2 linked regions of the Homo sapiens genome follow. The protein of the gene in region 2 purifies or fractionates together with the protein of the main gene of each other region. This does not show direct contact. Each region holds a gene or a part of one and is shown on either strand. Other genes may lie near its edges.

The links.
Region 1: the proteins of NLRC5 (region 2) and NDUFAF7 purify together in Homo sapiens (affinity purification with mass spectrometry; one large-scale study listed by BioGRID and IntAct). This does not show direct contact.

Annotation. Positions count from the first base shown.
Region 1 is NC_000002.12:37,241,658-37,245,675, forward strand, and holds part of NDUFAF7 (protein arginine methyltransferase NDUFAF7, mitochondrial), read left to right. Parts: coding exon 1-134; exon of another isoform or gene 135-767; intron 768-977; coding exon 978-1,036; intron 1,037-2,205; coding exon 2,206-2,316; intron 2,317-4,018. UniProt on the Homo sapiens protein: Arginine methyltransferase involved in the assembly or stability of mitochondrial NADH:ubiquinone oxidoreductase complex (complex I).
Region 2 is NC_000016.10:56,996,057-56,999,556, reverse strand, and holds part of NLRC5 (protein NLRC5), read right to left. Parts: intron 1-3,500.

The sequences.
Region 1 (4,018 bases), on a different chromosome or scaffold from region 2:
GATTCAAGCATTGACACTGACTAAAGAGAAGGTCCCGTTAGAGCGAAATGCTGGATCCCCAGTGTATATGAAAGGTGTCACTAAGTCTGGGATTCCAATTTCCTGGTACCGAGATCTGCACGATGTTCCAAAAGGTAATTACCTTTATGTGGATTAATGAAAGAATTTTGATCACAACCCTCACAGTATTGATGGGACTGTAACTTTTTACAGCAATATAATAGATTGAGTTACTGCTGCCAAGTCCCTTATCCATAGAGAGTAGCCTACTTTTTTCTAGAAAAGAGCATCTTAATAGAAAATAAAGTTGCCTGACATTAAGTAGTAGTTTATTTCATGAAGCTTTGTAAAATCCCAAACAAAATGTAAATCTCCTTTGTACTTTTGAGTATTTCCCTATAGCTAGGGTTGTACCGATGACGGAGCAGCCCAAGGCAGCTGGGGCTGATGGAAGCAGTGTTAGTAGGTGGGTTTAGTTCAGTTATAGAGTCTTTTAAAAAATCCTTACTTGCCTAAAGACAAGCAAGGTGTGGGGGAAAATCCCTGTACTAGTCAGGAATACTGACTAGTATTGACTAGTTTGAGTCTTGACTCAAAGCCAAAGTGGGGGTACGATCTTGGGTAAGGGATCTCAAGCCATTCCTGCCTCAGCCTTCTCAGGCTGAGAAGCCCGATTTTATGAAATCAAATTCCCTTCCAGCTAACAACTCTGACTTCTAATTTCTTTCAAGCCTTGTGATGAATAAAAGCTTTAACTGCTATTTCAGGTATTTCCATTTTCTGACCCCATTTATGTGTAAAATAAGAATAGTAATAATTGTTCTATGTTCTGCAGTGTAAGTTTTCCATGAAGAGGTAGATAATTCTGTGGTAGTGATGATTATGGAGGAAGTAGGCATTTTTTTTACAGTTAATATTCAAAAGAATTAATTCCTGTGAAATGTGGAAACATTAATTGTTTTCCTCTTTTTAAATAGGGTACAGCTTTTATCTTGCACATGAATTTTTTGATGTTCTTCCTGTGCATAAATTTCAGGTATTGAGGGGGGAAAAAAGTCATGTCTATAATTGAATACAAAAGGCATTGTGTTGCCAATGTTTATGGTATTTATTCAGTATACAAATTTTACTTGTTGAGGTTATTTTTAACTATTATTTGGAATTTTGGTACACAAATAATTCAAAAGCAAAAAATGAAATATTAATGAGAATTGTTAGTTCTCCTGGGATAATTATTAAGAATTCTTAATTCTTCTGATTTGAAGAAGTAAGGGAATGAAAAATGGTAAGATGGTAACTGGCTGTGGTGCAATGAAGGATTTACTTAAGCAAAAAAAAAATTTTCTTTTTTAAGAGATAGGGTATTGCTATGTTGCCCAGGCTGGTCTTGAACTCCAGGGCTCAAGTGTTCATCCTGCCTCAGCATCCCAAGGAGCTGGGACTACAGGTGTGCGCCACTGCACCCAGCCAACCTTAGCACATTTTAAAAAATTATAGATTAAACTTTTTTGGGCCAGGCATGGTGGCTTACACCTGTAATCTCAGCACTTTGGGAGGGCGAGGTGGGTGAATCACTTGAGGTCAGGAGTTCAAGACCAGCCTGGCCAACATGACAAAACCCTGTGTCTACTAAAAATAGAAAAATTATCTGGGCTTGGTGGCACGTGCCTGTACTTCCCAGCTACTAGGGAGGCTGAGGCATGAGAATCACTTGAACCCAGGAGGCAGAGGTTGCAGTGAGCTGAGATTGCACCACTGCACTCCAGCCTGGGCAACAAAGCGAGAGCTTGTCTCAAAAAAAAAATAATAAAACTTTTCTTCATTCTTTCTGTGAGGAGATTTAAGATTTGGTGATAATGTATATGTACTGGTAATTTGTGAGGAGAAGAGCAGCTCTCATGATCCTGTAGTAATTTGTTAGTAAAGCTTCTGGCTGTTCTTCCTGAGTCTATTTCCGTTTTTGGGGTACTTTCCATGCTGCTGATTTTATCTTCCACAGCGTCATCTCTGTTATTGTTTCTTTTGCATCGATTGGTCTACTCATTGTTCAAAGGCAATGAAGTAATGAATTTAAGTAATTTTAAATAGTAAGTTCTCTGTAAATGTTAGTTACTTATGGTAAGAGGAGAAAAAGCTATTTTTGGTAGAAGCAATGTAGAGAACAAACTTGCAAAAATTTGTTTTTATGTGTTATTTTGTGTTTAGAAAACACCACAGGGATGGCGAGAAGTATTTGTTGACATTGATCCACAGGTTTCTGATAAACTGAGGTTTGTTTTGGCACCTTCTGCCACCCCAGCAGAAGCCTTCATACAAGTAAGAATATGCTTTTTTAAGTTTCTTTTATTGCTCACAGAATCTTCAAAGTCTTATTTTCTGAGTTACTACTTTAGAGTTTTAGAGTTCCTTTACAGGAAGAGTTGCTAGTAGCATACGAGGTGCTTTTTATTGACAGTGAAAGTGCAGAGGAGCTAGAGGCAGGAGCATGGGTTAAAATCATTTCTTAAGTGTGTGACCTTAACGTCATGTAGTAAGAGAAAGTAAGTAACCGCTTACTCAGCCAAGTCTCTTACTTTCACTGCTTATCTCAGTTTCATGTCAAATGGTAATGGTATTGTCCACAGGAAGAGTTTACATCTGTGAAAGCAATGTAGTACAGACTATAGTAAATTAACAATAACAGCTAACGTTTGTTGAGTACTTTGTGTTACTCTGTTTTCTCATTTAATTCTCAAAGCAACTATATTAGGTAGGTTCTATTATTATCCTTCTTTGGGCTACAGCATGGCTTTTATCCCATGCTTCCACACAGATCTCAGTTTGATTCGGCCAGAATGGTAGAATTACTACTGCTTTCTGTTGATCTCAAGGAATCATTGCAAGAGCCTGTCTATTGTGGCTTGTTTAAAGGTACAAAAAAATCCCTGTACTTCTCAGGAACGTCCAGGCTTCAGACTGCCTCTTTTTTTTTAATCCTTTTTTTCCAGCTCAGAAGATGATTTTTACTTTCTGGACCTTAACTGAGAACTTCTTACTTAGAAATTATCAGTTTTAAAAGCACAAGAGCTTTTAAACTTAAATGTATGAATTAAGTTTTGTTAAGTATAAATTTAAATGTCAGACTGAACACTTATGAACACCTGTTTTTTCATAGTATAGCAATCTAAGTTTACCTGAATGACATATTCATAGAACTACCAAGAACTAACCTCCTGGCCCTGGGAGTTCATTTAGTTCTTGACCTAATTAGTATTCACTTAGGAAGGGAGGGAGCGAATATTCTCTTTCACTTGAATGAGATGCGTGGTAATACATGTCATCTTGAAGAGTAGCCTAAGATAGAATGTCAGCATGATCAGCGTGTCCACTGATGCCTGATGAGGCTGACTTCATGGTTTTTATAGTTAAGCCACAGTAATTTGATTGCACTATTAGCTAAATGGTTAGTTATATTTAATCCTCACAATAAACCTACAATATCTATAAGGAAGAAAACAACTCAGAAAGTTTAAGTAACTTGTCTACCAGTAAGCATAGGAAGAGCTGAGATTTAACTTCATCTGACTCTATGCCTGTTACCATAGGCAGACATCAGGGCAGGTCATTACTGCATTTCTATAATAAGGTGTTAGGAAGGAGTACAAGTTAATGTATGTTTTCATAATGAAGGGAAAGAAATACCACATTTTCAATCAGATCAGGAAGTAGTGAAATTTCATATATACTAGTCAGGTTGACAAGTGTTAATACTTAGTGTGATTTTGCTTTTTAAGCTAGTACACACTTATTGTGGCCCCTTAGTTAAGTGGACATCTTGGGGTAATAACGGTTTCAATACATTGGCACTAGTTTATAAGCCAGCGTTTCTTGATGTAGGGCATATCATTGGGATACTTTCTGGCACAACAGAGGGCATGATAATATAATTGTCTAATAGGGTCTGCTTCGTGTTATTGGATTTATACCATTTGTTCTTTCAGCACAATATTTTCATTGACTGTTATGTGCCTGGCACTGT
Region 2 (3,500 bases):
CCTCAGCTCCAACCTTGCCATGGGGCCTGGCAGGAATGTCCCAGAGGAGTCTTGCTTTGGTTTGGTAAGTAAGGCAGGGGACAGAGTAAGCTCGAGACATAAAGGAGAGAAGGCCTGGATCCAGGGCTCAGAGCTGCAGGCTGGGAAGTGGTTTGCCCATCTTGTAGGGCAAATCAGCAGTGACTTCTAGATCTTACTGCGCTTCTACCCTTTGACCTTACCACTAAACTTCTCAGCAGAAAGCAAAATGGACAGCCTTGGGGCCCAGAATACACAATGTGATCGACTGAATATTTGTGCTCCCCTGAAATTCACATGTTGAAACTCTAACCCCTAATAGGAGGGTATTAGGAGCTGGGGTCTGGGGGAGGTAATTAGGTCAGGAGGGAGGAGCCGTAGTGAATGGGATTGATGCCCTTATAAAAGAGACCCAAGAGAATGCTCTAGCCTGCTTTGCACCATGTGAGGATACAATGAAAAGTCCGCCATCGGCAACCCGGAAAAGGGCTCTTGCCAGAACCCGACCATGCTGGCACTCTGATCTCAGACTTTAGTCTCCAGAACTGTGAGAAATAAATTTCTATTGTTTAGAATCCAGCCAGTCTCTGGCACTTTGTTACAGCAGCCCCAATGGGCTAAGACACACAGAGTCTTGGATAAAGAAATTCCAGCAGCGGTCTTTAAACACCCTAGACAGCCATAATAAAGTTTGGTGTAACCACGCTGTGGGATTATGTACAGGAAAGGGACTTATTTTTTGTTGACGTGGCTGTATCTTCAAGATGTATCATGGAATAAACAAGACACATTGTATAATGATATGCACAACATGATATCACTTGTCTCAAAATACACATCAACAAACAGCAATACTGTTTCTTCCCACAGGTCGATAATAGCATGTTTTATAACTTAGAGGCTAAGAGCATGAATTTCGGAGCAAGGCTGCCTAGATTTGGGACTGACCTTTCCACCAACTGCAGGCTGGGTGACGCCAGGCCAGTTACATAGCCTCTCTGGGCCTCAATGTTCTCATCTGTAAAATGGGGATAAGAGCAGCACCTACCTCACAGAGTTATTGTGGGGCTTAAATATGTAAAGCTCTTAAAGCAGTGCTTGGAAGTTAGTAAGCCCTATATAAGAATTATTTTTATTATGTGAAGGTTTAGATAAAGTTCTGGAAACATATCAAATAGGGGTTACTGCAGGAGAGGGGACAGGCATGGGGCTGGAAGCAGTGAGTAAAATAGATATCAGCTTTATGTATAAAAAGTTTAACTTTCTGCAAGGAAGACTGATTCGTGTCTTACTTGTGTGGTTTAGAATTAATACATTTTTTTAAAGTAAAAAAAAAAAAAAAAAGACATCAGTGACTTGAGGCTGGGCCCTTTGAATTTAGCAGAATTTTGCCTCCAGACTGGATCATCTGAACTGCTCCCTCCCATCCTGGCAGACATTGCCAAACCCATAAAACTGGGGCAGAAGAAAGGTTGGAGGGGCTAGACGGCTAGAGCCTTGGTTTTGGGTCTCACTGACCCAAAACTGACTTAGAGGCTGACATCCGGACAAGTCCCAGCTCCCTTTGGGCCATGGTTTGTGTATATGTCAAGCAGGAGTAATGCTTTGTATGCAGCCCATCTCACAGGGAATTGTGGAGCTGTTAAAAGAGCCTCTAATGCTGGGCATAGTGGCTCACACCTGTGATCCCAGTACTTTGGGAGGCTGAAGCAGGAGGATCGCTTGAGCCCAGTAGTTTGAGACCAGCCTGGGCAACATGGAGAAACCCCATCTCTACAAAAAGTACAAAAATTAGCCAGGCATGGTGTCGTGTGCCTGTGCTCCTAAGCAACTGGGGGTTGGGGGACAGAGGTGGGAGGATCACTTGAGCCTGGGAGGTTGAGGCGCAGTAAGCCGTGATATTGTGACTGCACTCCAGCCTGGGTGACTGTGAAAGACCCCCATCTCGAAATAAAATAAAAGAACATAATTTTTGAAAAAAGATCCTCTGGGGTCAGGAGGGCTGGGTTTAAATCCTGATTTCAACATTTTAGTGCTGTGCAACCTTGGACAGTTTTCTTAACCTCTCTGTGCCACTGTTTTCCTCATCTGGGTGGTGATTTTACATTTACTTCACAGGATCACTGTGAGGGTTGGAGACATTAATACTACAGCACAAGGAGGGGACATGTCCAGTCCGCAGCCAATGCTCATTGGCTGTTATGTACTGAGTTCCCGGCATAGGCTGGGCATCAGGCTACAGTATTCCACCTGCACCTCCCCATTAGAATCTCAAGCAATATTTCCAGGCACGTTTCCTGCATTTCATAGATGAAGAAACAGGCTCCAAGAAGTCAAGCAACAAAAGGTGGATTTAAAATCTATGCTGGCCGGGCACAGTGGCTCACACCTGTAATTCCAACACTTTGGGAGGCCGAGACAGGCAGATTGCTTGAACCTGGAAGTTCGAGACCAGCCAGGGCAACATGGTGAAAATCTGTCTTTACAAAAAATGCAAAAAAATTAGCCTGGCATAGTGGTGTGCACCTATAGTCCCAGCTATTTGGGAGGCTGAGGCAGAAGGATCACCTGAGCCCAGGAAGTTGAGGCTGCAGTGGGCTGTGATCACACTACTGCACTCCAGTGTGGGCAACAGAGTGAGACACTGTCTCAAAAACAAAATAAATAAAACAATAAAATCTATGCTGATTCCAGAGGCCATTTCCTAACTGAAATATAATACTGCTTTCAACAAATGGTCGTCTTTTAAAACTAAATTATCATTTTATTATGTCTTTATTATTTTTCCTGTTTACGAACATAACCTGTACTCATTTGGAAAGTTCTAAATATTCTGGAAGTATACATTATGAAATTTCCCCCACAAACTCACCCTCTAGGGGTAAGTGTATAATTTCCAAAACTCTTTACTCATGTTTGAGATTTTTTTTGACTTATCTGAAAGCCAGAACACCATTTCCTTAAAGCTTTTCTAGAAACCATGTCACTTTTAACTTTATTTTTTGAAGTACCACTTGCCACGAACTGAAGGTATCATCGAAAAGAAACTCAAGGGTGGGGCATGGAGGCTCACACCTGTAATCCCAGCACTTTGGGAGGCTAAGGCAGGAAAACTGCTTGAGCTCAGGAGTTTGAGATCAGCCTGGGCAACGTAATGAGACCTCGTCTCTATCAAAAATAAAAACAAAAAACAATTAGCCAGGTGTGGTGGTGCGCACCTGTAGTCCCATCTACTTGGGAGGCTGAGGCAGGAGGATCGATTGAGCCTGGGAAATAGAGGCTGCAGGAAACTATGCACGGAGCTGTGCAACCAGTGCACTCCAGCCTGGGTGACAGAGTGAGACCTTGTCTAGAAAAAAAAAGAAAGAAAGAAAGCCAAGGAAAACAAAAAACACTATGATGCTGTTGAACTGTAGCTGGGTATTGCTGCAGACCCAGGGCTCTGACCGGAGGCCTGGCCTCCCCTTGCTGAAAATATCAAG